Linked DNA regions of Homo sapiens: region 2 is linked to region 1. A link means that fine-mapping ties the variant in region 1 to the expression of a gene that starts in the linked region. Tissue or cell type: whole blood. Region 1 holds a variant in brackets; the other region holds the start of a gene. All regions are shown on one strand. Distances are from middle to middle.

Evidence for each region. PIP is the estimated chance that this variant, and not a neighbour inherited with it, causes the effect.
Region 2: DDB1 starts here. The variant in region 1 is fine-mapped to the expression of DDB1 in whole blood (TOPMed, PIP above 0.99).

Annotation. Positions count from the first base shown.
Region 1 is chr11:61,264,633-61,267,388 of GRCh38, forward strand. VWCE (von Willebrand factor C and EGF domains) reads right to left here. Exons shown (of 20, transcript NM_152718.2): 17 at 490-580; 18 at 324-406. Among named protein-coding and RNA genes, the nearest start is that of PGA5, 25 kb to the left of the region's middle. RefSeq lists an enhancer at 1,684-2,756. The variant C/T (reference allele first, on the strand shown) is at 1,391.
Region 2 is chr11:61,331,625-61,334,252 of GRCh38, forward strand. It overlaps DDB1 (damage specific DNA binding protein 1), which reads right to left and starts at 1,481. Exons shown (of 27, transcript NM_001923.5): 1 at 1,284-1,481; 2 at 1-67. The coding sequence starts at 1,344. TKFC (triokinase and FMN cyclase) reads left to right here and starts at 1,604. Exons shown (of 18, transcript NM_015533.4): 1 at 1,604-1,705. RefSeq lists enhancers at 1,043-1,565, 1,566-2,088 and a silencer at 1,484-1,743.

The DNA of each region.
Region 1 (2,756 bases):
GCAGTGCCCTCAAGGGCCTCTTGCACCAGCAGCAGGACCCACGGAAAGATCCCAGGACAGAGGCTGCAGTGCCTGAGCCCTCGCCTGGAGAACAGGTAAAGCCAGCTATGGCAGGACCCCCTTTGGGAAACCACTTCTCCCTCTGGACTTCCACAGAGGGAGGAGATGGTCAAAACCAAAGATATTCTGGCAGTTAATTAAAGGCGGAGGATGGCAGGAGGATGGATTTATGCTGGCTAAAGGGCTCCATGTTTTGCAAAGGGACAAAAGGCAAGAAGCTGCCCTCTGGCGGGGCCGCTCCTGGGTTCCCAGGCCCAGCTCACCTGGCACGTGCACCGGGTGCAGGGTTCATCATCCAAGGTGAACACCTGGCCATTCGCCACCTTCCTTCCCTCGTAGTTGCAGTCTGTGGAGGAAGGGGAGACAGGAGCCCATGAGAGCCGAGGCCTGGCCGGGAACCTGGCACGTGGGGCAGCTGGTCCCACTCACCTCGGCACACGGGGCAGCACTCCCCGTCAGGGTGGAAAGGGTAGGTACAGGTGATGGGGCAGTCCACGGGGGAACAGGCCACTGAGCCCAGCTGCAGGACACAGAAAACACACAAGGCCCTCGGTTCAGGGCAGCTGACAAGACACTCAGGAAGATGCCGCTCCTATAGCCACTGAGTGTCCATCAGAACAATCAACATTGTGGGAGGAGTCCATGGTGGGGCAGTGGGGCAGGGGGCGCATTTTCTCTGTTGGGGTCCAACTTCCCACTAGAATTCAAGCCCCTCGAAGGTAAGAACATGGACTTGTCCACGGAGGGCATCTGTTAACGGGTGCCTGTTGCATAAACTGCCCAGAAAAGATAAGCACCAAAACCCGATAGAGAAAGATCCAGGGGCCAAAGTTCCCCAAAGCCCGAGGCTGAGAACAACTAGGGCCTACGTGCAGTGGGTCACTCAGGGTAAGTAGCTCAGGGCTGTTTACCGTGAGTTTCTCAATCTTTCTGCAGACCGTGTCCCTTGTCACGCATGTACTCTGCTGAGGCTCACTGATCACCAAAGAAATACCGCATCTGCACCCACACCAGCAAAGCAGCGTCATCCCGCATTCAGGGCGTCAGCATGCTAAGCATGAAGAATTTTTTTACCCGGAGTGGTGGCTCACACCTGTAATCCCAACATTTTGGGAGGCTGAGGCAGGAGGATCATTTGAGGTCAGGAGTTCGAGACCAGCCTGGCCAACATGGCAAAACTCCGACTCTACTAAAAGCACAAAAATTAGCTGGGCGTGGTGGTGCGCACCTGTAATCCCAGCTACTCAGGAGGCTGAGACGGGAGAATCGTTTGAACCTGGGAGGCGGAGGTTGCAGTGAGCCAAGATTGTGCCACTGCACTCCAGCCTGG[C/T]GACAGAGTGAGACTCTGTCTCAAAAAAAAAAAAATAAAATAAAATAATTATTTTTTTCATCCAGGCATAGTGGCTCACACCTATAATCCAGCACTTTGGGAAGCTGAGGTAGGAGGATCACTTGAGGCCAGGAATTCAAGACCAGCCTAGGCAACAGAGCAAGATCCTGTCTCAGTATTTTTTTATGTAAAATTTTTTAGCTACATTTTTAAAAAAGCTAAAAACAAAATTTTTGGCTGGGTGCAGTGGCTCATGCCTGTAATCCCCAAACCTTGGGAGGCCAAGGTGCGAGGATTGCCTGAGCCCAGAAGTTCCATACCAGCCTGAGCAATACAACACGACCCCATCTCTATGAAAAGAATTTTTTAATTAGCCAGGTGTGGTGGTAATCCCAGCTGGGTGTGATCCCACCTACTTGGGAGGCTGACATAGGAGGATCGCTTGAGCCCAGGAGGTCAAGGTTGCAGTGAGCCAAGATCACGCTACTGCACTTCAACCTGGGTGACAGAGCAACACCCTGTCTCAAAAAAAAAACAATTTTTTTTTCATTTTCCAAAAACTAAATGATACTATGGGACATGCTTTTTCAGACTGAGAGGCAGTATGACCCAGGAGAAGAAATATGCATCTCAGAATCACAATACTAGGGTTCCATTCTCAGTACTTTGATTAACTAGTTACGGGATCTGAGCAAAGACTCTCTCTGTGCCTTGGTTTTCTCATCCAGAAGAATGAGATGATAAACTCTTGAATGGATTAGCTGAGTGCATGCCTATGAAGGGCGTGGCACACTGCAAGAGCTTGACCACATGGGTCTACTGAAAAGGTTCCAGTACTGGATTCTGGGTTTGTGCGTTTCACCTCCACCCTCATCAAGAATCCCTAAGACTCTCTCTAGGGGGTAACCCGGAAGCAGAGGACTTTGCCAGCCAGGTTTAAAAATATTTCTCTGGGCTGGGCATAGTGGCTCATGCCTGTAATCCCAACACTTTGGGAGGCTGAGGTGGGCAGATCACCTGAGGTCAGGAGTTCAGGAACGGCCTGGCCAACATGGCGAAATCCCGTCTCTACCAAAAATACAAAAATTAGCCAGGCGTGGTGGTGCATGCCTGTGGTCCCAGCTACTTGGGAGGCTGACACAGGAGAATCGCTTGAACTCGGGAAGCGGAGGTTGCAGTGAGCCAAGATCACACCACTGCACTCCAACCTGGGAGCCTGGGTGACAGAACAAGGCTCCATCTCAAAAACAAACAAAAAAAATTTCTCTGGCCCTGTCTAAAGGGTCACCCTGGGCAGGACTGGAGGGAGCTGACTTCCACCATGAACCAGAAGCATCCCTTGTCTTGGAGGTCTCTGGATTTTGCC
Region 2 (2,628 bases), 67 kb after region 1:
ACATAGATCTCTAATCTCGTGTTTTTGGCAATCAACAGGTTTAAGTCTTCGGCCGAAGTAAAGTGTCCTGAAAGAACAGACCCTCTAACTTTTGAACTCAGGGGAAGGGCCTCCCATCCCTTCAAAATAATCCTATCACTTATGTCTAAATACCTCCAGAATTCTCATTTACTTCACATACTTCTCCAACTCCCTCCAGCTACTCCCCTTCTTGCCAAATCCGGCACCTCAAAGAGTCTCAGTTCATGCATTCAACAAAGCTACTTCCCTAATCAGACTAAGAAAACTGGACTGGACCTAAGAGCCGTGTGTCCTCCAAATGACAATGACTGCGTAATCCCTTCTCATGCCTCTTGCCCCTCCAATTTTACTCTATTACAGTTACAGTGGCAGGCTCTAATTGAGAATGCCGGAGAAAGTGTTCACTTCTTCCAGTCTTCATCTAAAGTCTCACAAAACTTTTATCTGACAGACCAAGTCAAATGAAGAAGTCCCAGAGCTTTATATGAAAACACTGTTTTGTCCACACCCCCTGCCCTCCTGGCAGTCTACCAATACCTCCATCCACACTCAGCTACCTCCAACTCTGAACAACAGTTTTGTTTTGGAATCATGATTAGGGTGTATATAAACATGCAAGCTTGGGGTCTGCATATTCAGCTGAGAATGTGGGTTAAGATGACTCTTCCCGGGTTCTGAACATCGGTGTCCTTAACAATCCAAGCGCATCGTCAACAAGGCAAACCCAGCACTGGGCCAGGCAAACCAAACCCTCTTCTCCAGCAGGGCCCTCATGTAAACAACAGCCCCAGGCAAAGGGGTTAGCCTGAAGAGGGCTCCTCTCCCTCTGTGGGATAATGCGGGCATTCCTCACATCCCTCCACCTCCTGGGCCCCCCAGACTTCCCCACAGGAAAATCTTGACCCCAAAGTCGTCATTACCACCTCCCCTTTTCCTGGCCACAGAAAGCCAATCTCCGGGCCCAAACGACACCGCACAACCAACTCACACTCCTCTGTCTCACTGGGCCCGCCCTGTTCTCGAGGCCGAATGACCTCCCCAGGACGAAAGGGGACCCTCGAGAGCGGCTTCCAACCCCCAAAAAGCGCGTACAGGGACGACTCTTTCGAGGTCGCGGTGCTGGGGGAGGTTCCTCGGCCGCCAGCGCCTTCCATTCGCCGGGCCCACTCCTGCCCGGCCGCCCCCGGGGCGGCGGGCCTCCCTAGGCCGCGGCTCCCCCCAACTCCCTCACTCGCCGGGGTCTCCGGCCCCGGCAGCCTCACCGGTCACGCAGCCGTTCACGGCGGTGGGCTTCTGGGCCGTTACCACGTAGTTGTACGACATGTCGAGGCTTGGAGCGGCCCGTCGGGACTCGAGCGCGACACTAGAAAGAGGGACACAAGCGAAAAGACAGGTGGCCCCCAACAGCGCGCAGCGAACTCCACTGCCGCTGCCTCCGCCCCAGAGACACGTTGCAGGCCAGAGCGGCCGGGGCGCGGGGCATCACGGGACGGCCTCACCTGGCCTCTTGGAGGACTCCCGAAGCCCGAGGCCGCCAACCGAAGGAGGCCCCGCCCCCGGAGGCACCGCCTCGCCTCTTTCCGCCAGCGCCCGCAGGACCCGGATGAGAGCGCACGCTTCGGGGTCTCCGGGAAGTCGCGGCGCCTTCGGATGTGGCGGATGCGGCCGTGAGCCGGCGGGGGAGGTGCGCCAGTGTCCTCCGAGCTCGCCCGCAGACTCCCCACCCCGTTCCGCGCCCTTTGCCCTTCCCCGCATCCAGTCCTCCTTCCGTTGCTCCAGGAGCCCTCGGGCTGTTCCTCCTTTGGGAACGGGAAGGACTGCGGAGGCATAGAGAGGGAAGGGAGACCGCGATTCGTGCATATCCCAGACTAGAACCTTGCCTGCTTTCCTTTCACTGTCTCAGTTCCTCCAGATCCAGCTGGTGCCCTCGCCTGACGTTTGAACGACCACCTGCTCACCTCCTCCCTTTTGCGCGTTGATTCTTCAGACTTCAAAGGGCCCACCGGTCTGCTTGCCCAACGTTATTAGTGCCCCTATTGCTCTACAAATTCGAACCTCAAACACAAAACCAGTATTTCTCCGTAGGGAACCTTAATGAGCCAGGAGAGCCGTCAGCCCTGCAGCCTCCAGGGTACCCCACATCAAACAGGCTCCCCGGGAACAAGAGGAATACCACGTGGCTTGGCACACTCGCAGAATGCCAGAGAGGAGCCAACCCCCATTTTACAGATGAGGAAGCTGAGGCTTAGGGAGGAATTGGTTTACCTAAGACCCTCCCCACAACCCCAAGTAGGCTGAGGCAGAGCTATGTTGATTCTTCCTATTGTGCACCCACACAGAGGCCAACACGCTGCTGAACCAGGCTGAACTGAGGAAAAGCTAGAAAGTCATCGTGGTTTACATCTTGCCTTTCCCATAGCAGAGACTCTGCCTGACTTTGGAGGCACTGAATTATCAGTAGTAAAAACACACTCTGTAGAAAAACTAGACATTGGTTTAGATTCTGGCTGTTACCTGTATTACCTTGGACAAGTCCCTAGAGCTCTCTGAGTCTGTTTCCCAGAAGTAAAATGGGTCACAAACCTGGCTAGCTCCCCCCATTCCCTT